Linked DNA regions of Homo sapiens: regions 1, 2, 4, 5 and 6 are each reported to be linked to region 3. Evidence: microRNA targets listed by miRTarBase, many of them from high-throughput screens and not tested one by one. Region 3 holds a microRNA gene; each other region holds the end of a gene's coding sequence.
The links. Region 3 holds the annotated microRNA hsa-miR-26a-5p (UUCAAGUAAUCCAGGAUAGGCU, at 2,166-2,187, opposite strand). A microRNA usually pairs through its seed, bases 2 to 8, with sites in the 3' UTR of a target mRNA and lowers its output. Matches are read on the target gene's strand: a 7mer-m8 pairs with bases 2 to 8, a 7mer-A1 pairs with bases 2 to 7 and ends in A, and an 8mer does both.

Region 1: miRTarBase lists USP3 as a target of hsa-miR-26a-5p. Seed matches in the 3' UTR shown: 7mer-m8 at 2,116-2,122.
Region 2: miRTarBase lists PDE4C as a target of hsa-miR-26a-5p. Seed matches in the 3' UTR shown: 7mer-A1 at 3,344-3,350 and 7mer-m8 at 2,762-2,768.
Region 4: miRTarBase lists VANGL2 as a target of hsa-miR-26a-5p. Seed matches in the 3' UTR shown: 8mer at 1,542-1,549.
Region 5: the mRNA of EID2B is a reported target of hsa-miR-26a-5p. Seed matches in the 3' UTR shown: 7mer-A1 at 3,144-3,150.
Region 6: the mRNA of FKTN is a reported target of hsa-miR-26a-5p. Seed matches in the 3' UTR shown: 7mer-A1 at 1,804-1,810 and 7mer-m8 at 1,238-1,244.

Annotation. Positions count from the first base shown.
Region 1 is chr15:63,588,773-63,593,612 of GRCh38, forward strand. USP3 (ubiquitin specific peptidase 3) reads left to right here. Exons shown (of 15, transcript NM_006537.4): 13 at 1-43; 14 at 172-239; 15 at 1,889-4,840. The coding sequence ends at 2,054. It overlaps USP3-AS1 (USP3 antisense RNA 1), which reads right to left. Exons shown (of 3, transcript NR_034080.1): 3 at 1-328. Among named protein-coding and RNA genes, the nearest start is that of FBXL22, 6.2 kb to the right of the region's middle. RefSeq lists an enhancer at 1,693-2,892.
Region 2 is chr19:18,206,447-18,211,105 of GRCh38, forward strand. PDE4C (phosphodiesterase 4C) reads right to left here. Exons shown (of 15, transcript NM_001098818.4): 15 at 1,519-4,659. The coding sequence ends at 4,483. Among named protein-coding and RNA genes, the nearest start is that of RAB3A, 4.7 kb to the left of the region's middle.
Region 3 is chr3:37,966,760-37,971,599 of GRCh38, reverse strand. MIR26A1 (microRNA 26a-1) reads right to left here and starts at 2,196; the gene lies at 2,120-2,196. CTDSPL (CTD small phosphatase like) reads right to left here. Exons shown (of 8, transcript NM_001008392.2): 5 at 3,718-3,774; 6 at 101-193. RefSeq lists enhancers at 1,401-1,962, 1,963-2,526.
Region 4 is chr1:160,423,955-160,428,794 of GRCh38, forward strand. It overlaps VANGL2 (VANGL planar cell polarity protein 2), which reads left to right. Exons shown (of 8, transcript NM_020335.3): 7 at 98-329; 8 at 1,164-4,716. The coding sequence ends at 1,424. Among named protein-coding and RNA genes, the nearest start is that of VANGL2, 26 kb to the left of the region's middle.
Region 5 is chr19:39,528,127-39,532,856 of GRCh38, forward strand. It overlaps EID2B (EP300 interacting inhibitor of differentiation 2B), which reads right to left and starts at 4,726. Exons shown (of 1, transcript NM_152361.3): 1 at 2,861-4,726. The coding sequence starts at 4,676. The coding sequence ends at 4,191.
Region 6 is chr9:105,633,565-105,638,404 of GRCh38, reverse strand. It overlaps FKTN (fukutin), which reads right to left. Exons shown (of 11, transcript NM_001079802.2): 11 at 1-3,354. The coding sequence ends at 3,141. Among named protein-coding and RNA genes, the nearest start is that of TAL2, 26 kb to the left of the region's middle.

The DNA of each region.
Region 1 (4,840 bases), not on the chromosome of region 3:
ATTTCCACTGAGAGGCCTAGACATGAAATGCTACTTACTAGAGGTAAGGTGGTTACCTTTTTAGCATGGTGAAAAAATGGCTCTTCAGTAAGATTGTCATCACATGGAGAGGGTAGAGGTCATCGAGATACTGATGTCATTGACCACTGCTCCTTCTTCCTTGTTCTGTAGCCTGAGAACAGTGGCCCGGAGAGCTGCCTGTATGACCTCGCCGCTGTGGTGGTGCACCATGGTTCCGGGTGAGTACAACAGCCAGCTTCTGGTGGGTGGGAATACCTGGTGGCCAGCCCAATGACCTGCAGTTTTGTACCACTCTTGCTAGTTCTTCCTAAAAAATGGATTCAGATAAAGTAGGTGAAATTTCCTTCAGTTTTGGTGCGGAAGAGTACTCCTCAGATGATGTTGTGAAGGCTTAAGGGAAGGTAAATAAAAGTGAAATGAAGAATGGTTCATTTGAACCCAGTATTTACGACCCAGTCTTTATTTGTCCACAAACTCCAAAGTTGCTTATTCGTTTACCAACTGAAATTTAAATGGGGCAAAAGGGGAAATTACTTGGAATAACTTACTCCATATCATCTACTTTAAAGACTCATTTTAAGTCTTGTTAAAAAACATTAATTTTTTCCCCTGAAAGTTTGTATGAGGGGTCTAACCTTCTGGTTTTTGGTTTGAGAGTGGCTATTTTACCTTCAAACTTAAGACTACTATATGTGGGCAGACGACTATCCATGTTGAAAATCCTTTTCCCGCAGAGCTGTGATAAAGTAACGTCTACACTCACATAGTGTTATGAATGACAAGTCTGATTCTCACTACTTTACAGGCACCTGGCTTTTTTCTCCTTGGAGTGTATTCCTGCTTGGTAGTTGGTAGGGACACTTTTAATTTGGTGCCTTCAGCTCATGAAACTCTCTATACTGTAGGTCTGAAATCATTTGTTCTCTGTACCCCTATTATATGCATAGTGAATTTCCTGGATCTCCCTTCCACATGTCTTAAATACTCTAATGATTTCTGTCTGTGTTTCTAAAGACTGCCATGGCCTACTTTTCCAAATCACCAATTTGGGTTTCATCTGTATCCAAATAAAAGATAAGCTCCTCCATAAAATATTTATATTAAATCAGTCACATTTTTCTGACAACTTTTTCGTAACAGCCTATTCTTGTTTTATGATTGCACTATCTTTTTGAAACTATTAGCACTAATTTAAAAATGTAAAGTTCTCTTAGGTTTTCTGCATTCAATTCCTCAGGGTTGATTGCCTTGCTTGTTCTTCCCGGTATTTCTTTCCCCTCAAAAATGTGATTTTGTAGGCGTGCAAAAGGCTTGTTTTTAAAATTTGGTTTTGGTGGTTTATTTGGAATCATAGTAAATGATGAGATGGATCTTTATTATTTAAATAGGGTTTTCCTGGCACCTACAAAGGTCTGTTCTAGCTGCAGGCCTTCCGTCTGACTTGGAGGACTGACTCCAGGGTTGTGTGTGTGAGTGGGTGGGTCATGCTGATAGGGTAGAGCCCCTGATGACCACGGTGTCAGGGAAGGGTGCCCTTCTTTGTTAAGCTTAGTTTTTTCCTAAGATTCTGATGGGAAAACCTGGTACCTAGTTTTCCATGTTTCCGTAGGCTTTGACCTGTGCTTGTTAGGTTGCGAGTTCCTCATCTCTGTTTTCTCCATTAGTCCAGGGCCATCTGCTTTGTGTTCTAGCAAACCCTCGATTTCTGGTCAGTTTGGAGGAAGGTAAAAACATTAATTTAACAAGCATCTTAAATCAAAAGTCTAGGATGTATTCTTATTAAAATTTAAATCTAACATTATATAGTTGTACAGGTCTTTTTGTGATTTCTGAGGTTCTTTTTTCCTTTGGTCTTTTGCCTTTACAGGGTTGGTTCTGGACATTACACAGCATACGCAACTCACGAAGGCCGCTGGTTCCACTTCAATGACAGTACTGTAACACTGACTGACGAGGAGACTGTGGTGAAGGCGAAGGCCTACATCCTTTTCTACGTGGAACACCAGGCCAAAGCTGGATCGGATAAACTTTAATACCTCCTCCAAATCATCATTCACCAACCATACCAGAGAAACATTTCCAGTTTTCCACAAATACTTGATACAAGATTTAATTTCATTATGCACTTTTCAATTTCCTATTTTGGATTTAGTTTTGTCAATGGTAGTGACTTACTGAACATGGGCACCAACTAATTTTGTTGTTGTTCTACCAGAAAACCTCAGCAGATGTTTTGATTTGCTGCTTTAGTTGTAATAATTCAATTTTTATAGGTAGTTGTAAGAACTTAGTCTTATTTGACTTTTTTATTTTATGTTAATGTTTTCAGTTCTCACTTTGAGGCACATTTACATCAATGCTTTTGTTCCTCTCACATGCTGAAAGCAAGATGTGTTCCTTATTGTGAAGAGCGACACAACTGCCTGCTGCCTTTCCACAGCTATAATGGACATCAGGTTGACTCTAAATCAAGGATCATGTGTGCACAATACTTGTGGCCCACAAAATTTCACAATGACTGCTGAGGAATCATTCTTTTTGCCTGTAAAATATAACAAAGGGCATCATTAAGTAGACCAGGTAATTACTGCTTGTCTCTCAAGGCTGCTGTCTTTATCAGCACTAACTAAATAAATTTGTTGGTTCAGTTGTACTTGTCCTGCAAATACAAGAATTACTCTCTTTGTTGGTTTTTTTGGTTTTGGGGCATACTTGTTTGCGGGGAGGTAAGATGGGAGTAAAGACCAAATACATGTAATGTTTAAAAAAAATGCTGTGACTCACTGACATGGTATAGGTGTTACCAGTGAGGTAAAGCCATGGCGTCTGCCTCCTTTTGAATCAGTATCTCATTCCCCCTTAGTTGTACCACTGGAAGTCACGACATGTCCATTATAGACTTACTTACTGCTTGTGTTTGGCATCTGAGTCTGAGGTGTGACCCTCTGGGATTTACTTGGATCATCACCCGCACTTCAGTTTATCACTGGGGGGTGTGCTTCCACAGGAGGAAATTTAGAATCTTCGCTGCTCTGGGTTTTAACACCTCTCTCTGGCCTATCCTGATTGATAGGACAAGTTGAAAATACTGTTGGAGTAAGTAAGTGGAGTTTTCGTTTTGTTTTTTGGGGGTTTTTGGAGACAAGAGTCTCTCTCTGTTGCCCAGGCTGGAGTGCAGTGGCACGATCTCAGCTCATTGCAACCTCGGCCTCCCGAGTAGCAATTCTCCTGCCTCAACCTCCTGAGTAGCTGGGATTACAGGTGCCCACCACTACACCTGGCTAATTTTTTTTTTGTATTTTTAGTAAAGACGGGGGTTTACCATGTTGGCTAGGGTGGTCTCAACCTCCCTCCTGACCTCAGGTGATCCGCCTGCCTCAGCCTCCCAAAGTGCTGAGATTACAGGCGTGAGCCATCACGCCCAGACAGTTTTGTTTTTAAAAAACAGATTTAACTCAAAGATTCAAATTTGGAACCAGAATCCCATTTAAAGAAAGCAGTTGTGGTTTCTACAAGTGTTCTAAGACAGTCCTGTGGTGGTTTTTTTTTTTTCTTTTTTTTGGTTGGGGGCGGTGGGGGTTGGTAGACATAGCCTACCAATTCTCCACAAGGGACAAAATGTATCTTGTGTTAAGCCAACGAGACTTTCTGGCAATTTTTTTTTTTTTTTTTTAATGGAGTCTTACTCTGTCCCTCAGGCTGGAGTGCAGTGTGGCATGATCACAGCTCACTGTAGCCTCAACCTCCCAGGCTCAAGCGATCCTCCCACTTCAGCCTCGAAGTAGCTGGCACCACCACACCCAGCTAATTTTTAATATTTTTACTAGAGATGGGGTTTCACCACGTTGCCCAGGCTGGTCTTGCACTCCTGGGCTCAAGTGATCCACCCACCTTGGCTTCCCAAGGTGCTAGCATTACAGGCATGAGCCACCACGCCCAGCCTGTTCTATTAAAAACATCTTGACCTTTTTTTTTTTTTAAGTTTATGATATAAAAACAGTCTGGTGGCTTTCCCTCAGGTTGGATATCTGAAGTTGTGGGAGCAGATGTAGCTCCATTTCCATTTTAATATTAACTGGATAAATCCCACATCTTCCCAGAACACATCTGCTAAACACTTTAACATGACAAGGAGCAAATTACAATTATGTGTAAACTTATATCATCCAGTACAATGGCCCCTAGCCACATGTGACTGAAATTTAAATTAGAAACTCAGTGCCTTCAGTCACACTAGCCACATTTCAAGTGCTCAGCACCCACATACGGCGTAGGACAATGCTGGTCTAAATTTTCACTCCAAAGAATAAAACTTTGCCATCATGTTTAGGTCTTACAACTTTGAGTCCTAAAAGATAATAGGGAGATGTGTGCTTAAATTAATTTACAATGCTAAATTATATTAGGTTAAACTGTATGAAACCCTGCTATTTGATGAGTTCTGATCTACAAAAATGACAGCTCCACCTGATCTGATGTATCACACATTAACATCACATCTAATTCAACCTGAAATGTGAGTCTCCTTTGATCTTGCAAAGTATCTCCTATGAATCCGGGCTCTTTTGCTTAGAAGGTAGACAGCTGTAACCTCTAACATTGATACTTCGATCTTCAGTCTCTCTGAATGGGCAGCTGTTAAACAGTAAAGGCCTGGGCAGAGTTGATGGTGAAAAAAAGCTGTATTTTTATACCAAATGGAACTTCAGCAACACGTTGGACTACTTTGTCGGGCAGAGTGGTCTTCAGACAGGTGATGCTGTTGGCTTAAGAGATGAACACGTCTTCTCTCTGAATTTGTTTTTATTGGTTGGTTTTA
Region 2 (4,659 bases), not on the chromosome of region 3:
AGGAGTTCGAGACCAGCCTGGCCAACATGGTGAAACCCCATCTCTGCTAAAAATACAAAAATTAGCCCGGTGTGGTGGTGCCTGTCCCAGGAGGCTGCTCAGGAGGCCCAGGCATGAGAATCGCATGAACCAGGGAGGCGGAGGTTGCAGTGAGCTGAGATCACCGGCACCACTGCACGCCAGCCTAGGTGCTAGAGGGAGACTCTGTCTCAAGAAAAAAAAAAAAAAGTATCCCAGATACGGGTCCAGGGACGACTTCTCGGGGAAGAAGACACTAACTTAAAACCCAGTGTGGGGGCCAGGTGTGGTGGCTCATGCCTGTAATCCCAGCACTTTGGGAGGCCGAGGTGGGTGGATCACCTGAGGTCAGAAGTTCAAGACCAGCGTGGTCAACATGGTGAAACCCCATTTCTACTAAATATTAGCCGGGCATGGTGGCGGTCGCCTGTAATCCCTGCTACTTGGGAGGCTGAGGCAGGAGAATCGCTTGAACCCGGGAGGCAGAGGTTGCAGTGAGCCAAGATCACGCCATTGTCCTCCAGCCTGGGCAACAAGAGCGAAACTTTGTCTAAAACAAAAATAAAAACAAAAATCTAATGGGTGAGGCTGGGGGCTGAGAGAGAAGCATTCCAGGTAGTGGGAACAGCTTGTTTGAAGGCCCTGTGGTGGGACCAGGCTTGCAGTGTGGCCAGAGCAGATGCAGTCAGTAAGAGGAGAGGGACAAATGCCTTTGGCTCAAACTGAAGGAGAACATATGAATATTCATTTATAAGAAATATGAATATTCTAGGGCTGGGTGCAGTGGCTCATGCCTGTAATCCCAGCACTTTGGGAGGCCGAGGCAGGCGGATCATGAGGTCAGGAGTTCAAGACCAGCCTGGCCAACATGGTGAAAACCCAGTCTCTACTAAAAATACAAAAATTAGCTGGGCATGGTGGTGGGCACCTGTAATCCCAGCTACTCAGGAGACTGAGGCAGGAGAATCGTTTGAACCCAGGAGGCGGAGGTTGCAGTTAGCCAAGATCACACCATTGCACTCCCGCCTGGGCGACAAGGCGAGACGCAAAGAAAGAAAGAAAGAGAAAGGGAAAAGGAAAGAAAAGAAAGACAGAGAAAGAAAGAAAAGAAAAGAAAGAAAAAAATATGAATTTTTTTTTTTTTTTTGAGACAGTCTCGCTCTGTCACCCAGGCTAGAGTGCAGTGGCTCGATCTTGGCTCACTGCAAGCTCCGCCTCCCGGGTTCAGGCCATTCTCCTGCCTCAGCCTCCCGAGTAGCTGGGACTACAGGCGCCTGCAACCACGCCCGGCTAATTTTTTGTATTTTTAGTAGAGACGGGGTTTCACTGTTAGCCAGGACGGTCTCGATCTCCTGACCTCGTGATCCGCCCGCCTCGGCCTCCCAAAGTGCTGGGATTACAGGCGTGAGCCACCGCGCCCAGCCAAAAATATGAATATCTTATAACAGATGGAGAAAAACTAGAGGGAAATAAGTCAAAATACTGCAGATAATCCATGGGTGGAGATACAGCAGAATTTTATTTCCTTCTTTATACATTTCCATTATTTCCAAATTTTTTACAGCGAACATGGTATTACTTTGTAAGCGGACTGGGGGGAAAAATCTTGAAAAAAAAATTCCCTAAATATCTTCTTTTTAAAAGTCTGGAAGGAAATGCACCAAGTTCGTGAACCCGGATGACTTTTAGTTCTGGCACTGTGGAATTTTATCATTAACTGTGATGATGATGAATTCTGAGTGGTTATAATATTTATGAACGAAGCCAGCTGCTCTGGAAGCCGAGGGCGGCTGTGATGACGCCTGTATCTTGTATAAATATTCAGGCACGCGAAGAGGGAGGCAGAGGGGAGGGATGGATACTGAGGCTTCCGGAGGCGGGGATCGAACCCTAGGCTTGAGCATGGTGCTGCCCAGTCCGCTCGGAGGCCCGACCAGCAGGACGAGCTCTTCCCGGCGAGGTGCGGTAAGTGGGACCATCAGGGCTGGAGGATGCCACCCCTCCGACCCACCCCCCAACCCCCGACAAGCGCGCCCCGCCGTGTCTCCCACGCCCGCCACCAGGGGGTGCCGCTGGCTAACATTGGGCGCCCAGATGCTTGACTTTGAGCTGGCAAGAGGACCTCTCTGCGCCTCAGTTTCCTCATCAGTGAAATGGCCAGGACACTCAATTTGGTCAATCGAATGTCTTAAGATGTAAAGATTTTATTTAACCCCAGATAAATGCTCAGTACCCCAAATGTCTAAGATATTTCAGGGAGGTCACAGACAACAACCCCCCACACCTCGTCGGAGTTTATCCAAGTACTAGGATCAGGTTACAGAGGGGAAACTGAGGCCCAGAAGAGGCTATGATGGCAAGAAAGCCTCAGGGGCCTCCCTCCCTCTAGGGGGAGTCTGAGGCAGTTTCAGGAATCAGGAGACTTAGAGACCTGCTAGAGAGGGAAAATTGTGTGTTTTTGTTGCTGTCCTAGGGAAGGAGGAACACGTAGGGGACCCAGTATGGAGTTCTGCGGACAGAGAAAGCAGGGGGCTCCTACATCCAGAGACACCAAAGACAGAAAATAAAGCGACTTAAAGCAACAACTGGTGCATAGGTTCAATCAGTCTTCAGAGACATGCCGGGCACAGAGCCCCCTCTTTTTATTGTTGTTGTCGTTGCCCAGGCTGGAGTGCAGTGGCGCGACCTCGGCTCACCACAACCTCCACCTCCCGGGTTCAAGCGATTCTCCTGCCTCAGCCTCTCAAGTAGCTGGGATTACAGGCACCTGCCACCATGCCTGGCTAATTTTTTTTTTTTCTTTTTGAGACGGAGTCTTGCTCTGTCACCCAGGCTGGAGTGCAATGGCACGATCTCGGCTCACTGCAAGCCCCGCCTCCCGGATTCAAGCGATTCTCCTGCCTCAGCCTCCCGAGTAGCTGGGATTCAGGCACCCAACACCATGCCCAGCTAATTTGTGTATTTTTAGTAGAGATGGGGTTTCACCGTGTTGGCCAGGCTGGTCTTGAACTCCTGACCTCGTGATCCACCCGCCTCGGCCTCCCAAAGTTCTGGGATTACAGGTGTGAGCCGCCGCACCCAGCCTCTAATTTTTTGTATTTTTAGTAGAGACAGGGTTTCACTATGTTGGCCAGGCTGATTTTGAACTCCTGATCTCAGGCGATCCACCCCCACTCAGCCTCCCAAAGTGCTAGGATTACAGGCGTGAGCCACCTGGCCCGGCTTTTTTTTTTTTCTTTTCTTTTTTGAGACAGTGTCTTGCTCTGTCGCCCAGGCTGGAGTGCAGTGGCATGATGTCGGCTCACTGCAACCTCCACCTCCTGAATTCAAGTGATTCTCCTGCCTCAGCCTCCCCAGTAGCTGGGATTACAGGCACCCGCCACCATGCCCAGCCAATTTTTGTATTTTTAGTAGAGATGGGGTTTCACCATGTTGGCCAGGCTGGTCTCGAACTCCTAACCTCAGGTGATCCACCTGCCTCAGCCTCCCAAAGTGCTGGGATTATAGGCATGGGCCACTGTGCTCGGCCTCAGAGCCCCGTCTCTTTCCTTTCCTTCTCTTTTCTTTTTATTTTTAGACAGGATCTTGCTGTGTTGCCCAGGCTGGAGTGCAGTGATGCAGTCATAGCTCTCTTCAGCCTCCAACTCCTGGGCTCAAGCGATCCCCTTTGTCTCAACCTTCTGAGTAGCTGGGATTCTCAGGTGCACACCACCATGCCTGGCTAATTTTTTTTTTCAGAGATGGTGGGGGTCTTGCTATGTTGCCCAGGCTGGTCTCAAACTCCTGAGCTTAAGCAGTCCTCCCACCTCAGCCTCCCAAAGTACCGGGATTACAGGCATAAGCCACTATGCCTTGCCCAGCCCTTCTTTTCTGCTCCTCTTCCTGCCCCCTACCGTAGTTTCAGAAACAAAACTGGGTATGAGTGAAGCTTTGGTGCTGAAAATTTTCCCCACTCACATTTCCATGCTCTTGCAGAGAGCCGCTTGGTAGAGGAAGACAGGGAGATGCCTTTGGGATGGTCTCCTGACTCCCCACCCTTTGTGCAGGGCTACTACAGAGGCAGAAAGCTGGCACGAAGTAGATGAGCAATAAATATTTGATAAAGAAGGAAATAATTAAGTGACAGATGTGACTCAAGAGTGACCACTGGAGAGGGTGGACTAGAGGCTCCAGCAGACAGCACCTCTCCTCACAGGGATAGAAGCCCAGGAGAAAGACACCAGGGCATCGTAAGAGGCTGCCCCTTAGAGAGCTCTTTTAGGCAAGTCTAGGGTCAGAGTGGACCCCAGCCAGGTGCCTCCAATTAGACCCTGGGAGCCACCTATAACTAAGAGCTTGATTGTCTCCCTAAATGGGTGGGAAAGTGAAGCAGGAGCCACATGGAGCCTCTTCCTGGAAAGTCTGCCTGCCAAGAGCCAAAGGGCTTTACCATCCATTGCCCCTGCAGTTCACGCAGGGCTGGCCCTAAGTCCTCTGGTTGTCGAGGGGTAAGTCCCCAGGGTCTGGGCCGGCTTCAGGGGACAGGAGTTCAGTGTCAGGCAACTCCAAGGCCTCTTTGGCTAAAGCTGTCTCTTCCCCCTCCTCTTCTTCCTCCTCATCCTCTTCCTCTGCCTCCTCCAGAGTCAGTTCAAACTGGAATCT
Region 3 (4,840 bases):
TTCCCCCACCAAAACAAAGGGCTGCTTGACAGATTGGGGGTAGGGGTGGAGGGGCTGGGAGTACCAGGCTGGGAGTGTGGGGCTGGGAAGCAGGACTCACCTTGGCCAAGCTGGCAGTAAAGAGCACACATTCAAAAAGCTGCCCCATCCTCTGGAGGAACTCGTCCACATGTGGCCGCTTCAGCACATACACCTGCAATGGCAGGAGACAGCAGGCTGGTCAGATGTGGCAGTTGCTGGGGATGGCCTGGGGCCCAAATGCCCACTGTAGGAAGAATTGCTACAAAGGTTCCTGCCTCCCTCCCCCAGGTCTATGCATAGCAGGCAGAGGCCTAGACTGTATGAGGGGCTATGGAGTCAGACGTGGCACTCCTCAGACAGGGCTCCAGGTCTGAGTTCACTGCAGACGCCCCTCCTAAGGGAAAAAGAGAAGCTGACCATGGTGTGAGGGTCTTGGGGATATTCAGGGCCAGCAAATGGAAGGGTTGTACCATGTTTGTGTGTAATGACTCATTCATTTCACGTGTGTTTCTTGGCACCTGCTGAGGGTCAGGACCTGTGTGGGCACGGGCCACGGTCTGGGTGTTGTCCTTTCAGAGGTCCAGGCCCAGCATATTGCCCAGCAGGTCTGGGATTGCTCCGGCTGCCACCTTCTGTTCTGGATGGACATCCCCCTTACTAGGAAGGTCTGGGGTTGAAGCACAGGCCCAGCAAAGCTGCAAGAAGGGGCTTCCTTGTCAGCTTGGGAAGCTGTCTATGACACCATAAAGGGTGGGCTTGGTATGTTTCAGGGGATGTGAAACCATCGCTATTCCTGGACCCCAGACATAATCCATCAGGAGGGGTCTCTGAGCAGAGGGGTGCAAAGAGTAGCCTTTTCTAGAATGGCTGGGCTCTGTGCACCCTTTTGACCAGGCCAGGCCAGGGGGTAGCAGTGAGGAGGCCAGGCTTCAGACCATACATAGGTTCTTGATTAGGGAGCCTGAATGAATCTGGGGAAACAAGGGAGATGGGAGAGAAGGCAAAGCTGGTGAGAGAAGACAGAGGAAGTGGGAGGAGGGAAGAACTAATTCAAACTTGAATAAATTCCGTTTGAAATTAGCCACTTCACTAAAATAAATCAAACTCTTTAAAATTCAATTCAGCATGTTTACTGAGCCTCAGCTCTGAGCTCAGCCTGATGTAGTTGCAAAGATGAATAAAACACAGGCCTTGCCCTTGAAGAGCTCATACTCTAGAACAGACATAGGCAAAAACATATAAAAATAAACATGGCATAATGAAAGTTGTAGTAGAGGGATAAATTAAGGACAATTAACTCCCCTCACAAGGGGAGGGGATCATAGAAGATAACATTTGGCCTGGACCTTGAAGGAGTTCACCAGGCCAATAAGGTTGAGAAGAAGTGGGCTTTCAGGCAGAGGAAACAGTAGAGGGTGAGACCCGAGGCCTGAGAATACTTGAGAAGCTAGAGAGTAGCCAGGCTGTGTGCCCAGCCATCAGAGGTAGTGAGAGAAGCCGGAGCAGCAGGGTCTGGGAGAGGAAGTGGCTGAAGATGAAGTGAGAGGCAGGTCACAGTGGGCACATTAGGGCCTTGAATGGCAGATGGAGCAGGTGAGAATGGCAGGAGGAGCAGCAGAGGGGAGATGAGGGCTCTGCACCACATGCTGGGTGTGCTGCTGGCCGAGGAATTCTATACAGAACCAAGTCATTTTCAAGGTGCCAGAAGCAGGAGCTCAGGAGGGCCAGGACTCAGTGGGAAATTCATGGGTGACTGAAAGAAGGAGGTGGACATGGATTTGTGGCTGAGGGTGGAGCGAGGGGCTGGAGGAACAGGATGTCGTAGCACGGGTGCCAACACAGCTCTGAGGAGCTGGGAGGCTGGGGTAGGGCTGAGGGCAGGGCCTGTGGCTGCAACAGCTGCAGACTCCCACTTTGCCCACAAGACTCCTCGTTGCCAGCAAACGGGTGTGGCCTGTAGTCCTCAGTCACCCTGGGAGTCCTGCTTGGAAAGCAAGCTTTGCTACATGCAAAGGGCAGGAGACTGATTTGTGAACTCTGGTGTTGGTGCCTCTGGCAGAGAGGGGGGTCCTGAGCCCGGATGCCGGCGTCCAGGCCCGCGTCCCCGTGCAAGTAACCAAGAATAGGCCCATTGGGACCTGCACAGCCTATCCTGGATTACTTGAACGAGGCCACGGCCTTCGCCAGGGCCTTGGTCCTCCTGCTCTTGGCTCCTGTGGCTTCATTCCCTCGGGAGAGAATTTCTGACCCCAGCCCTGGGACCTTGTGATATCACAGCACAGCCAGGATGGAGGGTGGGGGAGCTCCTGCAAGAATGGGTCAGCAGTGGGCAGGCCAGTCATGCTTACAGTCACGTGGTACAAAGGATTAATTTCTCTCCTAATTCTTGCTATGCCATTGGGCAGCCTCTCCTTTGTCTCATCATGAGCACTATGTAACACAAGCCAAGATGATAAATGCAGAAGCCTTAACTGCTTCTCAGATGCTGAGTTAATTCAGTTGATGCTTTTGCAAATGTTAAATGCCCAAGTGCCTGCCGTTTTGGCTCTGTGATGGCTTTTAAAAGCATGAAGTGTGGAAACACTAGGAAAAAAGCTGCCTCTCCCCGGGACTGTTTCCTGGCAGGATGTCCTGGAGAATAAGCAAGAAAGCAAGGACATGGGAGGGAAGGGACTTGCGTATCAGGAAAAGAGCCCTGGGCCAGGAGGCAGGAGACTGGAATTTTCATTTTAATTCTTCCCATCGTATGACCTTTAACCAACCCCTTCCCTGGCGGAGCCTCAGTTTCTCCATCTAGACAATGAGGCAGCTGGACCAGCTGATTCCCAAGCTTTCTCCAGTTCTGACACCTTGCACTCAAGAACCAAAGACTACTGACATTGCTAAGAAAAGACATCCCGTTGTGGCTCAAGTACCAGGAAAGTCTCCTTCCTGGGATATCAGGCCAGATACGCTCCCTTTAAGACCTTGGACTTGACAAGGAAGATGGTTAGATCATCCCTGTGGAAAATCTGACAAAAGCCCCCCAGCTTCAACCTCTAAAGCTAGTTTTCCTACAACATTCCCAATTTGTTCATAAATGAAGTTATTTCCGGAAGAGCTTTATGCAGATAAGGAAAAAAAATCAGAAGCAACGAAGACGCATGCCAACTGACTACGGCATCTTTATTCATAGCAGCCTGCGGATCCGAAAACTCACACCCTTCCCCCTTTTTCTTTTGGGGTGGGTATTTGCTAAAGATTCTCTGGAGAAAACGATGCAGGAATGATAAGATCAGTCTGGAGCAGCTGGCATTGAAAATGGACACTTTTTCCCGAGAGTCCACCATAAGTGGGTGACTTGTGGCATTTTCCTGTTGCCTGCTAGGAGAGTAGCCGAAAGCAATTACACAAGGAAGTTAATTAGACCATCAAGCTAGGCCAGTGGGGGATACGGAAACTTCTGAAATTCAAATCAAAGAACTATTTGAACTTGCAACCGCATCTAATATTTACGACTATAGTTTCCTTATAATCTCAGTATAAAATAAATTCATTGGAGTGAAAAAAAGAAAAACATTGTATTTATTACAGTATGCTTCCTTTTGATTCCGTAATAAAGTTATTACTGAAATGAGAATTTAGAAATAAAGTTCATAGGAAATGTAAGTACTAAAAAATCTTAATTGAAACTCAAATTTAGCTTCAGTTTCTTACCTGATGTATAGTTCCATCGATTTCAACCGGAACAATAAAATCAGCATTACTAATAGGCTAGAGAAAAAAGAGACTATAATTAATATGTCTGAAGGAACAAAAAAACTCTGGAAATTTTAGCAAGAAAAAAGCCTGCCTAGACCAATGTTTTGGTTATTGGAAAAAACAGTTCAGGAGGAGGATGATGAAGCATGCCTTGGTTCCTTAAAATAAGCACAAGCAGGAAAGCACATTATTTTCCACTGTGAATGTCATTACATTTTCAGCATCTTGGTCCAATATCACCTGCCTGGCCTCAACCAAAAAGTGTGGCACTGCCTGGCTAGAGGATGGGGCTCCTGAAAACTCCAGCTCTTGCCCAGAGTCTTGCTGGGGTGATGGGGAATCACTGCTAGCCACCAGGGGGAGGAGCTGAGCATGTAATGGGCTCCGAGGACAGTGCTGCTTGAGGGAAAACTATTTGTACTTGGACCCACAACTGGCGGCTGCCCTGCGATGGGCTGCTCAGCAGGAGAAGATGGCCACACGGACTCAAAACAGTAACAAGGCCATGTGGGGGTAAAGTCAGAGGCCGCAGGCCACACCCTTGGGCAGGCTCTTCCTCTCCTTGGACCTCAGTTTCTCCTCTCTTCCTTAGCTATTGTGATGGGTCTGATGCATGCCCATGGCCCCAGTCCAGTACTGAGAATCAGTGATTTCAGGCCCTCCCAGGTAGCCTGGCACCAGCTCCTGCCTTGGGTGGGGGTACAGAGCCAGCCCACCCTATGCCTGCTCCGCTCCAAGGAACACAACATCCAGCACACCCACAAACTTCTGGATATTTTAAATAACTCTTTGACAATATTAATGACATTTAAAATTCAAATATGATTCTTCAGCAGTCATTACGTTCTCAATGATGAACTTACACACAGTTCTCAATGGAATTCCACAAATTAGGTACAAAACTACTTAAATGAACAGGCCCAACTGAATCATCAGCCTGCAAACCCCTGGACAAGAGAAGAGAGACAGAAGGAAGGAGAAGGTGTGTGTGGTGGCCTCTGGGCAGGGGTAGGGGTACAGCATCTGGTCAGACTCTGAACCGAAGTCTGCTTTTAAGCCCATCACAGTACACACAAAC
Region 4 (4,840 bases), not on the chromosome of region 3:
ACCTCATTCAGGCTGCTGGAGTGTTGGAGCTAGGGGAGAGGGGTGGGGTGGGGGAAAGAGAGGTGGGCATCTGGCCCAGTCCCCTCCTGTCCCCTAGGCTTGTAGTGGCGGTGGAGGAGGCCTTCACTCACATTAAGCGGCTGCAGGAAGAGGAGCAGAAAAACCCCAGGGAGGTGATGGACCCCCGGGAGGCAGCCCAAGCCATCTTTGCATCCATGGCCCGTGCCATGCAGAAGTACCTTCGGACCACCAAGCAGCAGCCCTACCACACCATGGAGAGCATCCTGCAGCACCTTGAATTCTGCATCACGCATGACATGACGCCCAAGGTAGGCCTGCCCTGCTGCCAGCATCCTTCCTCCTTCCCCAGCTCCTCTTCTTTCCCACCTTCATTTTCCCTTATTCTCTCACTACTTTCCTCACTGTCCACCTCATTTCTCTCTCCTCACCACCTCCTTTTTATAATCTTCTCTCTCATTCCTATTCCACCTGCCCCATCTGTGTGGGGTGAAGTCTTTAGGTAGATGAGGAGAAGGGAGTCCTCAGGACCATTTTGGGGATGGCTGAGACTTATTTCTCATCTCTATGAGGGCTCCGGAATTACCAGATCCAAAGGCCCACTTTCACCTCCATTACCCTCTTCACCTCCACTAGCTGGTCTTGGCTTTGTGTCATTTTGAGCCATTGCCCACCTTCAACTCTATTGCCAGCTTCCTAGAATTGCTTTCCCTGAGCCACCCTTGGTGAGCAGGTAACTAAAGATGTTGCACTTTAACCTTGACACCTTTGGCTCCCTCCTGGTGCAGACCTGCTTGGCACGAATCATACAAGCTGTGTGGGAAGGAAGGAAGAATGAGGGAGGGCTTGCCCAGGTCACAGCCTGGTGCAGGGAGAAGAGCAGCAGATGGGGGTCAGGGGAGCCGAGTTCAGTCCTACCTGATGAGCCACATCCCCCTGTGCACTCCGGCTTCTTCATTTATAAAATGAGGGTCTGAAGCAGATGATCTCAGGCCCCTTCCTGCTGTAACATTCTGAGGTTCTAGTTCATATGCATAGAGTGAGCTCAGGGACGTCCTTCTTGTCTTTGGAAACTATGACCTAGGGGATGAAGGACCGTGGGTAGATGACAGAGATTCTTATGCAGCCCCTTCTTTCCACTTCAGGCCTTCTTGGAGCGATACTTGGCGGCTGGACCTACCATCCAGTACCACAAGGAACGCTGGCTGGCCAAACAGTGGACATTGGTGAGCGAGGAGCCGGTGACCAACGGCCTCAAGGATGGCATCGTTTTCCTCTTAAAACGCCAGGACTTCAGCCTGGTGGTCAGCACCAAGAAGGTCCCATTCTTCAAACTCTCCGAGGAATTTGTGGATCCCAAGTCACACAAGTTTGTCATGAGGCTGCAGTCTGAGACCTCAGTGTGACTGTGCAACAGCAGGGGGAGTGGGAAACTCTGGGGGGTCCTGAGGGGGTGGGAGGGGGCTTGGTTCTCAGGCCCAGCCACATTCCTGCCACCCTTCTTCTTCTTGCTCTTTTTTTTTTACTTGAATTAACGCACCCCCACCTTCTCTCCTCGCTTCTTCCTTATTTTACCCCATGTGAACCTGGAGAGACCATCCTGCTGTCAACAGTACCTGGGAAGGACTCCCACCTCACCAACAACTTTTGTATTACTCTAGGCCCTGCAGGAATCAGTGCCTCTCTCCCTCTTCTTTCCCTAGTCTTTTCCCAGATTACAGTCTCTCCTGAAAGGGCACAGGGCCCTGCTGATTGTACTTTCCCCTCCTGAGCCCCGACTCACAAATCCAAGTTCTTAAAACATTTCTCTTCAGTGGCCCAACAGGGTTTCTCTGGGGCACATGGACATGACTCCAGAGAGCCACAGTGCCAAACTCCTCCAGGGCAGCAACTGGCCCTCCTGTCCCTCACCCCAGCCACAACAAACCCTGGGTTCTAGGGCAGGGATACTCCTGCCACACAGCCCGAGTTAGAAATCTCCTTGCTAGGAGCATTTGCTTCCACATATATTTAGAGCAAAGAAGGATCCCATCCTTTTCCCAGAAATCTCCACCTAATGTTTTTGGTTTGTATGGTCACGTGACCATAGGCAACCACGTGGAAACCCTCTGTGACCACTTTTCCAGGGACTTAGGGGAAGGTACCTTTCTTCCAATGTGTCTTCCTAGGCAGCCCCTGAGGAGGAGGGCTGAATAGATCCCTGAGGTTTTGGAGAGACCCCCATCACTGACTCCTGCTCCCTAACCCTACCCTCACTTTCGTCCCCGCTCTTCCCAGTGAAGGATGGTATGTAGACTCCTGTACAGACATAGTGGCTTGCAGACCCTGACCCAGCCCCTGTGGTCTTAGACAAATGTTTTTATTTTTGTCACCAGCCACCCCTGTCCTGCCGCCTTCTCTCGACTCCAGAGACCTGTTGCCTCATCTCTTTTGGGGAAGAGCCGGCAGCTCCTCCTCATCCCCTGCCTTAAGTCCAGTTCTTTGCCTCAGGGGTCTCGTTTCCTTGGCCTTCCAGGGTCCCCACCCCTTTTCTCCCTGCCTGATTCTCTGAGCTCTGGGCTCCGTCTGTATTGGGTTGAGGGGCAAGGATTACTGCCTTTTGTAGGTACTTCACCCCTCACCCCATTTTAGCTTCCATAGTCTTTGCACCAAATCCAAATTCTTGATAATTTAGATCTCATTTTGAGCAAAATTTGCTGGCCCTCTAATAAATATTTTCAATATAAATCTGAGCCTTTGACTCAGACATTTTTGCCAAGGAGAGTAGAATTAGGAAGTACCCATATACATCCAGCCAGGATCCACATGGAGGACCTTTCTGATGGCTGCAATGACTAGGCCATTCCTCTGAGTAACTCACAGTGTCCTTTTGTAGGCCCTTCTTTTCCCTGAAAGACTGGTTGGTACTTACCTTGCAGAGCACATCCTGGGATAAGATCCCCAGTGTCTCCCCTGGGAGGCTCCCCCTCTGTGTAGCACCAGCCCTGGGAATGATGGAGCCTAGTGATCGGGGTTTCTCCTGCTGTCCTTTCTGCAAAAGTTCACTTGTTTACCCACCGCATGCTAGAGAGGAGCTCATTGGCCAATGCTTACCTTGTCCCCAAAGGGGTGGGTTGTGGAGCTCACTTAGGCAGGGCCTCTGGCTGGGGCCAGGGTTATGAGATAGGCCTGTATGAAATATGTCCTGTTCTGGGGGTCTGTCTCTTTTCTTCTCTTCAAAAACTTTGTGTCAGAGAGTCCCTTCTGAGTCACATAAATACCTCACTATCCTGGAAAACAGGGCCTGGATGGTGACTGGGGTCATTGCCTTTGTGGACAGGATGGAGTGTGGTGTGGTCTGAGGAGCAGGTTGGGGTGGGGGAGAGGGAAAGGATTTGGGATCTTAGTTGCTGCCCTAGGTTAGGGGCTGGGGAGTGTTTATTTTAAGATCCTGCCATGTTTTTAATCACTGTGATTTTTTTTTCATTCCCCTTTCCTAAAAAAAATTTTTTGCCTCCAACTCTCTAAGCACTAAGGGCTGTGCCTGAGAATGGTAGCATTTTGGTCTTTTGCTTCAGAACTGTGGTATCTTTGTCTTTTTTCATTATTATTATTATTATTATTATTATTATTACTATTGTTTTTTAAAATGTCAGGATGAATTGTCAGACATATGGCCATGTGTTTGTCCTCTGCTTCTCCCCTGTGGGAAGTTGTCTCCATGCTGTGAACTGCTGTGGGGTGTGCAGCTGACTCAGTCCCTCTGAGCAGTTTCCCCACTGTGTCTGTCCCATCATGCGCTGGATCTGCTCATTCTCCTGCTGTGGGGGTATGCCCACCTCTTACCCCCTTGACACCATAGGGCTGCTGTGGCTGGGCCTCACCAGCACTGTCTTTTGTGTGACTCATGGCATCCTCGTTCATCCCCACCGTGCCTAGCAGGCCTTCCTTTTCACCACCTCGGAACGCTTGCCTTTCCTCCCTCCACAACAGGACGCTGTGCCTCAGTCCTTCACCTACCTCGCCACTCTGCCACTGTCCCCATTGGTCCTTTCTCCTAAACTGGTCTTTGTGCTCTCTTTGTTTTTTCTTATTTCCCTCTTGTCTCTCATTTTTTCTTCCCATTCCCCTCCCATTTCAGCCCTTAACTTTTCTCTTTCCCATCTCCACTCAGTATTCCAATGGCAAACCCTGATGATGTAACACCTGCGATGAGACATCGGACTCTCCGGAACTTTCTCATCTGACACGTCTTTTTCCCAGGGTTCGTACTTCTCCTCCATTGGTCCCAGGCTAACTCCCCTGTTCCTCTGTGGTGTCTGTCAGTCCGTCTGTCTTCTCTTTCCTCTGCCCTTCCCACAGGGCAGTATCTGCTGATGGATTCAGTCCTGGTGTGTGATTGTTGTGATTTGTTCTTCCGTGCGCAAAAGGAAGAGGGCTTTTTGAGTCCCTTCCAAGTGAGATTGTAAATGTAGAATTTTCCACTGTTGGATCTAGATTTTTTTTCCTTTTTTTTGGGGGGGTGGGGTTACAGAGCTGAGACCTTGTGCATGCATGTAGAAAATTGTAAAATGTAAATTTTTTTTAATATATAAAAAGCTTGTTTCTACAGTTTGCAGTGGATCTAAACATTACGGCAATTTTAGGATTTTTTTCTTAAACATAGGAACTAAAACTGTACAAATTTTTTTTATATAAAATAAAGACATTTGACTTTTGTGGGGGCATTCTGTTGCTTTTCTTTCTTTACAGGAATGGGAGCAAATGAGGGCCAGGGAATAATGAATATATTCCTTGTTAGGGAGGGAATGGGCAGGAGGGGGCAGTGTGAGCTCATCATTGC
Region 5 (4,730 bases), not on the chromosome of region 3:
ATCGCTTGAACCTGGGGGGCAGAGGTTGCAGTGAGCCGAGATGGTGCCACTGCACTCCAGCCTGGGCGACAGCGAGACTCTGTCTCAAAAAAAAAAAAAAAAAAAAAAAAAAGAACGAGGTAAAACTATTGTTCTTTGTAGATGATATGATTGTATACCAAAGAAAAGCTACTGCAAACAATAAGAGAATAGAGTAAGTTTAATAGAGCACCAAAAAAAAAAAAAAAAAGATAGCATTCAAATTTACACACCATAAAACCTCATTTACAATAGCCATAAACAACAAACAGAAAACCAAACAAACCTTGGAATATTTTTAACAAAAATATGCAAGACCTATATGAAGGAAACTTTAAAATACATCTGGGGACAAATGAAAAGACTTACCACATTACTGGATAGGATGACATCGTGAGGATGTCAATTCTCACTCAACAGTATATATATTGAATGCAACCTATATAAAAATACTAACAGCTTTTGTAAAAATTGAAACTAGTCAAGATGATCCTAAAGTTCCACAATAGAAAAAAAAAATCAAAGAACAGCCTGAAAAACTTTGGAAAAGAAGAGCAATGAGGGTGGACTAGCACTACTAGGACCTAAAACATTCCAAATGAATAAAAATTGTAATGTTAACATTTAAAACTTAAAACTATTCATGAGTGTGGGGGGAAGGTAGGGTGCAACCTGAGGCAAAAAAAAAAAAAAAAAAAAAAAACCAAACAAAAAACCAGATTCCTTCATGATCCTGCAGTGGCAAAGACCTTTCTTTTTTTTTTTTTTTTTTTTTTTTTTGAGATGGAGTCTCGCTCTGTCACCAGGCTGGAGTGCAATGGCATGATCTCGGCTCACTGCAACCTCTGCCTCCCGAGTGCAAGTGATTCTCCTGCCTCAGCCTCCCAAGTAGCTGGGATTGCAGGTGCGCGCCACCATGCTCAGCTAATTTTTGTATTTTTAGGAGAGATGAGTTTCACCATGTTGGCCAGGATGGTCTCGATCTCTTGACCTTGCGATCCGCCCACCTCGGGCTCCCAAAGTGCTGGCATTACAGGAGTGAGCCACACCCGGCCCCATGACTCAAAGTCTAGAAACCGCAAAAGAAATAAACTGAATATACACAGCTACATTAAAAATTTTTTTCTCTTTTTTTTTTTTTGAGACGGAGTCTGGCTGTGTCGCCCAGGCTGGAGTGCAGTGGCTCAATCTAGGCTTACTGCAAGCTCCGCCTCCCGGGTTCACGCCATTCTCCTGCCTCAGCCTCCTGCATAGCTGGGTCTACAGGCGCCCGCCACCACGCCCGGCTAATTTTTGTATTTTCAGTAGAGACGGAGTTTCGCCGTGTTAGGCAGGATGGTCTCGATCTCCTGACCTTGTGATCCGCCCGCCTCGGCCTCCCAAAGTGCTGGGATTACAGGAGTGAGCCACCACGCCCACCCAACATTTTTCTGCATGGCAAAAGGATCACAGCAGTCTGAACTGCTGTGAACTATATTCCATGTCATCACAAAGGGCTAACTTCTTTAGTGACTGACACATAACTTACAAGCCAATAAAAAATAAGAATATGGACAGATAGTTCGCTGAGAAATGAAAACAAATGGCTCTTAAGCATTTGAAAACATGCGTCCTCACTCGTAATTAGAGAAATTCAAATTAAAACCATAGTGAGAAACCATCTTTTACTGTCAGATGCTTCCAAAGCTGTCAGATTAGCCAGGCCGTGGCGAGAGGCACAACTATCCCTGGCTGAATGGAAGGTAAACTGGTTGAGCCCCAAGGACAGCACTCTGGTGACACATTAAAAATACCAAGGTGGGGCCGGGTGCGGTGGCTCACGCCTGTAATCTCAGCACTTTGGGAGGCTGAGGCAGGTGGATCACGAGGTCAGGAGTTCGAGACTAGCCTGGCCAACATGGTGAAACCCTTTCTCTAAAAAAATACAAAAATTAGCTGGGCACAGTGGTGCACCTGTAGTCCCAGCTACTCGGAGGCTGAGGCAGAATAGCTTGAACCCGGGAAGTGGAGGTTGCAGTCAGCTGAGATGGTGCCACTGCACTCCAGTTCAGGCGACAGAGTGAGACTCCGTCTCAGAAAAAAAACAAAAACAAACAAAAAATAAGGTGGCTGGGTGCGGTGGCTCAAACCTATAATCCCAACACTTTGGGAGGCTGAGGCAGGCAGATCTTGAGGTCAGGAGATCGAGACCATCCTGGCTAACCGGTGAAACCCTTTCTCTACTAAAAATACAAAAAATTAGCCGGGCATGGTGGCACGTGCCTGTAGTTCCAGGTACTCCAGAGGCTGAGGCAGGAGAATCACTTGAACCCAGGAGGCAGAGATTGCAGTGAGCTGAGATTGCACCACTGCACTCCAGCCTGGGTGACAGAGCAAGACTCTGTTTCAAAAAGAAAAAAAAAAAACAGTGTATTATGGAAAACGAGTAAACACGTATAAATGCATAGAAAATGTTAAAACATTTTGCAAACAACCCAGATGTCCAAAAGGTGTCTAGTTCATTATACTAAGATAAGGCTTTACATTGTAGTTGTAAAAAAAAAAACGCCCAGTGGAGTAGCTCACGCCCAGCACTTAGTACTTTGGGAAGCCGAGGCAGGAGGAACAGTTGAAGCCAAGAGTTGGAGACAAGCCTAGAAAACATAATGAGGCCCCATCTCTGTTTCTATATATAAAAAAAGAAAAAAAAAACCCTGATATATAAATCTCTCCATATATAACTGAAAAAACCCAAGATGCTGATAGAGGTATACAATATGTTACCTTGATTTTATATTTTTAAAAATTTATACCTCGTGATGCAAGTTAACTACCTTGATATTAAAAGGGAAAATGCACAATATTTAGATTGATGTTTATTTGCATATGCATTAGAAAACCTGAAAGGCGTACAGTGAAAAAGCAAAAAACAAGCAAAACCAAGAAAACAACAACAAAACTCCAAGCCACAAGCAATGGCACCTGCATGGAATAGTTCTGAGTTTGGCAAAGGACAGCAACAAGAGAGATTTCTCACAGCATCTTTTGATACTTTTTTTCTTTTTTTTGAGACGGAGTCCCACTCTGTTGACCAGGCTGGAGTGCAGTGGCGTGATCTCGGCTTACTGCAACCTCCGCCTCCCAGGTTCAAGTGATTCTCCTGCCTCAGCCTCCCGAGTAGCTGGGACTACAAGCGCGTGCCACCACACCCAGTTAATTTTTTATTTTTCGTAGAGATGGGGTTTCACCATGTTGGCCAGGGTGGTCTTGAATTCCTGACCTCAGGTGATCCACCCGCCGTGGCCTCCCAAAGTGCTGGGATTACAGGCGTAAGCCAGTGCGCCCGGCCGATACTTTTTTTTGTTGAGTCTTGTGAATAGAATACATATTCTAGAATAAAATAAAAAGCTTAAAATTAACAAAAAACAAGTTTATTCCACACCTACCCAATTTCACATAGACTTGAAAACACTGATCATATAATACGTGGTTTTTTCTATTGAATATTTACTGTTCATCTAAAGTACCTCAGAAAACACAAATATGAATCTTACACTAGGATTTGTTGACATGACCACAAATTGTGAAATTTCAAAGTCCTCTCAATAGCCTTCCAATCCTAGTAACTCAGGTACACCTGGATTCCTGACAACTCTATTTCTTTGTTTTCTTTCATCACTTAGGTTCATTTCTATGGGTTCTGTTATTGGCATTTTTTTTTTCTCATATCTTTGCAAAACCATCCTTTATGGTGAAAGTCATGAAGGATTCTTCACAAATGCAGGAAAATGCATTGCTAACAAAGTGCTAAGTCAGAAGTGTCTTGGGACCTGTTTGAAAACAAGATTCGGCCGGGCGCGGTGGCTCACGCCTGTAAAGTAATCCCAGCACTTTGGGAGGCCGAAGCGGGAGGATCGCTCGGGTCCAAGCGTTCGGGACCAGCCTAGGGATGCGAGACTCCCTTCTCTATTTAAATAATACTAAAAAAGAAGAAAGAAAACAAGATTCAACAGTCTTGTCTGTTTCCATTTCGGAGTGTGCTTCCTCCTTCAATTGCACATTGCCGTATTCCCTTCCAGTTTGCATTCCCCCTAATGACTGAGTTAACTAAACTGGCACAGCCTGCCTGTTCTTTTGATCCCAAAAGGGTCACTTGGCTATTCCTTGCCACCAATGTCATCATCACAGCCGACTCAGTCGGCCAGAGGACTGAGGGCCTCGGAGGCAGTCAGCGCTACCGTAAACGCGACAGCAGCGAAGTCCATCTGCGGGGGATCCGCGTCAAAGGCTGCTTCCCTCGCCTTGCAGCCTTCCACAAACAGCCTGCGGCGTTCCTCGAAATCCCGTAGTAATCTGACCGGAATCATGGAGCTACCATCCAGATACTCGCGGAACAACAGCTGCCGGTTAATTTCTAAGAAAGCGAGCTGCTGATGGGGGTCTGGCGCGGAGGCCAGGCCCGGGACGCTGCTGGGGATGGGCCCGGGCACAGGGCCCGGCATCCGCGCCATGGACCGCGCAGCTTCGGCCACTGGGCCTTCCCGAGCCTCCTGCACCCGAACCCCGCCGCCGACTGCCCCCCGCAGTACGTCGCTGACGCCACTCGCGGTGCCCACCTGTGGGACACTGCTATCTCCGGGGAGCTCGGACATCTCCAACAGCCCAGTCGGCTCCGCCATAGTCCCAGCGTTTCTACGGAGACTGGAATAACGGCACTGCACTGCTGTATGCGA
Region 6 (4,840 bases), not on the chromosome of region 3:
ATTTTCCAGATAAAGGTATGAAGGTTGCCTAAGAATTCTGAATTCTGAACTAGAAAATACTTCCCCTTGACCTCTCTGTCGCCTTAGGTTCTCAATCTGAACAAAAAGATACTAAGCGGCAGAAACACCCTGAGACTTAGCCTCAATGAAGCACTGGATGCCTTCTCTGTTAAGCATCTCAAGCACTGTTAAAGATACTGTGTTGTGATGCGAAACAGACATTGGACTAGGAGTCACGGCAGTCTTGGGTTTTAGCCTCAGCTGTTCTTGTTCAGATCATTCTTTTCTGTGATTATTTATTTAGTTATAAAATAAGAGGGTTTAAAAAGAATATTACATTATGGTTTTTCTAGCTTTTAAGATTCAAAAGCAGAATGATTTTCACTTAAGTTTTAACTTGTTTTGTGGGGATACTGGCAAACATTCTGTCACCTAGTGGTCAATTTCAGGTTTTGCAGCTAGGGAATCAAAGAAATCAGCTGTCCCACCAAGCAGCTACTCTTAGGGATGCTCAATTTTAGGAACTATGGTTTTATTCCAGGGGCCAGATATCAGTAGCTGCAGCAGAGGAGAGAAGGACAAGTGCTCCCTGCTTAGAGAGGACTGGGTGACTACCTGGTTGTCCTGGTTATCAATTAAGAGGAATCTTGCCTCTCAGGATGTCTCTGGAGACATTCATGGGTGCCTAACTACCAACAAGTTGTCAACTTCCCCAGGTAAGCCAGGTAAACTAAACCTGAAAGTGGTCAGATTAGGAGAATGACTGCTAGAATACTCAAGTGATGAAAGAAAAGTGATCCAATGAGGTACTGAAGATGGATATACCTAACCCAAGGTCTCTGGACACTCCACAGAACCCAACTGTTAAAATACATAAGATGAAGTATGGATGAATCAGAATCAGAGGTAAGCCTGGCCTTCAGATTCTAGAGAAGGCTTTTGTTTCCCCAAGTTAGGGTGGAACCCATGAGCTGAAGCCTGTGAAACCAGAAGACAAGAAAAGTATTTCAGCAGCCAGTGGTCTATGTAGGGAAGAATATAGAACCTGTGTCAATTGGGCCAAGATGTCTTGGATTTCAGACACTCTTAAGACTTTGTACTTCAGGAAAGGATAAAAGATTAATCTGAAAAGGGATGGGTAAGATCTCCTGGCAAAGAATGGGAGTCCCAATTGGAAATGGGGAGAAATGTGGAGTGTATGCATTTCTAAATACTGAGCACAAGCAAATGGTCCTCATCAAGTAGGGTGGATTTTGCCCAAAAATAGTATTATTATTTGTTCTATTATTTTTAAGCATGAAAAATGAATTTAGGGTCAGCTATTTAGAATTTGGGAATGCACTCTATGGGCTGATTTTCTAGCAAAGAGAAAATGGATTATGATGATGTGCCATTTTGGGACAAGTTTGCTGACAATCTTAAATGTCTCCAGAAACCACTCATGTTATTTATGAAAGACCCAATAATTCTGCATTGAGAATGCAAATTAGGACAGAAGACTGTTGGTTATCATTTATCAAAGGTTTTCATGTTGCTTTACAAATCCGGAATGGGTGGTTGTAAGTTACTTTCTCTAATTTGTTTTCGAAAAAGTCTACCAGCCCATTCCCTCAGACATTCAGGTTTCCATTCTTGAGACTACTATTGTTCTCTGGTGTCAGAGGAAAATCTGCCAAGCTCCAGAAAGTAGTCCTAAATAGCATAGATAAGATATAAGATTCAGCTTCCTTTCCTAGACAAAGAGAAAAATAGCAGTGCTTATTGTGCCTACATTTTCCTTTACCTCTCACTTACAATATATCATTCAAGTGATATAAGAGAGAGATGGGGTAAACAGCATCCTAGCTGACTCAGACATCTTGAGGGGAAAAGGAAACTAAAGCATTCCAGAGTGTGTGGTACTTGGTAAAGTAGAAGTCTGAGTTCTTGCCCCATCGACATTCAACAGACTGAAAAACTGGGGAGGGACACAAACTTTACAAACTCTATGATCTGAGGTAGGGTGAATAGTTGTCAAGTCCACCATTTAGCTTCCATTTTGGAGATCTGATATATTAGAAGAGGAGAAGAAACAGGCAGGTTTACATGCCATTTAAATTGGTATATAGACCATAAATTAGAGATACGAAGCTGTAATTGATAAATGAAGATAATAAAGAGTATGTTTTAAAAATTAGAGTATATTTAAAAAATTCTATTAATATTTTAGTGTCATTAAAATTGGGAGTGCACAGATTATAAATTCAGAAAATATAAAATGTACATGAATTTCTCATATTTTTACCTAACAGACTGTCTGAGAATAAAATAAAAATGAGTTTTGTGAAATCATGGCCTCTTTCAAGATCATGTCTAGTAACATGGTCTCACTTGAATGATTTGTCAACAAGTGCCATCAGAGGTCAGTGAAAATATTCTCACAATGGATGGAAATTTAAGCATTAAACAAGCATAAAGTTTCTTCTCACTTCACATATGAAAACAGTACATGTACAGAAATTTACTTATCCTGACAAGTAATAAGCTCTGATACAAATAAGCTCTCACCTTCCCTAAAAGAATAATGCCTTGTTCTCTAATTCAATTCCACATAAGATTAGTTGAAAAATGAACCTGATATCATCTTTTCTTGATGTCACTCAAAGTCTGATCACTTGAATATTAACTCAGACTCCACAATCTTAAAAGTAGCACTAACATACCAGCTTAAATGCCCAGAAGAGGAGTGGGTTATTCTTTTCAACTAGTATATCCTTCCTTAGCTTTGCCTGGTGAGCTCATCTTCCAGTTCAAACATTACTTCACGTTTTAAAAACCTGTACAGAACTTGAACTCTTCAAAGGGTGGGGGAGGGTTCCCTCAAAGGAAAATTGAGTTGTTTACCAAAAGGAGGAATAAAAGAAGTAGGTATTTGTCTCATTCATCTAGGCTTCTCCACTGTAACCTAGCATTGTATGTGGCACATGAAAATTCCTCAGTACTAAGTGAGAGAATTACATCAGATGACTCTTTCTGTGTCTTCAAACTTGTCACATTTTTTCTTTGGTTCCCACTTATGTTTGACAAATAGACATGTATTTTTTAAACAGTTATCTACCTTTTTTTCCAAAAGAGAAATTCTCCCATTTCAACCTACTATCTCAATATAACTGGATAACCTCATCCCACTCAGAAATAGGCCAGATTCCATTGGGTTGCACATTGGGAGGAGAGCGCTTCCAGTCCCACGTCTTTACAGGAATCTTCCAGGTCTTACCATAGTTGGCTTCAATGTATTCGAGGGTTTCACAGGGTACATGGACCTTCATGTCTACAAACTCAGTCCAGCACAGTGTAAACTTCGGAAACAGGTATCTGCAGCAAAACAGAGGGATTAGGCTTCAACAGTGGAAGAAGGTCTAGCTAAGGAATCTAGCTGCTAGTGCATTATTGGCTGAAGGACAGTGCTCTCCCATTACACAGCTTTGGGAAGAGAGTGGATATTTAATTATTTTTGACTGTCCAGAATCCCTTTCCTCTTCTCCAATTTTCCTTTCCTGTTCCAAGCTCATAGGATTGAGGAGAGGCTGACCCCATCACTAAGACTCAGGCCAGTAAGTTAATGATTGAGGCAGGGATGGGAACATACCCAAGTCAGGCAAATCAAAGTCAGCCTTGGGCTTTCTGTTGGAACTGTAGAGGAAAGAAGTGTCAAAGTAGAAAGCTGTCAAAAGATGGATGAAAATGATCTTTTTCTTTTCTTTCACAATCTGGATTTTCCAAGGATACAGAGTAAGCAGGACTCCAAGTTGCATTTCCAGGCTTTTCCTTTGGTTCCATAGCTTACATGATCCTACCTGTGGTTTCTGCCTTTCATCTCAAATGCTAAAGAACATCTTTAAACCAGCCCAAGGAATACTAGTTATAATGATTGTAACTATATTTATTGCAGAACTAAGTCGATTAGTAGGTAAGTTTTAGAAATTAAACCAGGCCGGTCGTGGTGGCTCCCGCCTGTAATCCCAGCTCTTTGGGAGGCTGAGGCAGGTAGATCACTTGAGGCCAGAAGTTCGAGACCAGCCCGGCCAACATGACGAAACCCCATCTCTACTAAAAATACAAAGAAATTAGCTGGGTGTGGTGGCACACTCCTGTCGTCCCAGCTACTCAGGAGGCTGAGGCAGGAGAATCACTTGAACCCTGGAGGTGGAGGTTGCAGTGAGCCAAGATCACGCCACTGCACTCCAGCCCGGGTGACACAGTGAGACCCTGTCTCAAAAAAAAAAACAAAACAAACAGAAATTAAACCAAAACATGTTTCTTAAAGATCCTTTGGATCAAGTAAACTAAATTATGTATACTAGAAAAGAAAGCTAAAACTAGCAGGTCTGTTTAAGTTTATATTATAGCTCTGCTCTATATTCTGCATTTTTTTTCTGAGAAGTGTTTCAGTGTGGGAAGAACTTTCAGTAATGAGGTTTAAAGTGGCAATAGCAGAGATTACAGGAATTTAAAATATCAGAGGATTAAAGAAAGAACAGGGAAAAGCCAGATTTCAAAGTGTAATCATATTGTGGAAATGGGATCTAACTGGGATGTTCTCCAAGAAAAGGTCAGTTCTCATATATTCTGCCTTTGAATATCGTGTTTTACTACCAAATGAACATAAAGCCATACATGAAAAGGAGAGGCTGAACAAATTCTAAAGAAAGCAACAACTCCCTTTTACTCAAACCCAGTTAATGGACAATCCCAGCTGGCTACTGTGAAAAGGTGGCCACGGAAAATCTCATAGCTGAGAAATAAGATACAGCTTAGCCCCACCATCTGCTGGTCCCAATTTTACTCTGCACACTCATGT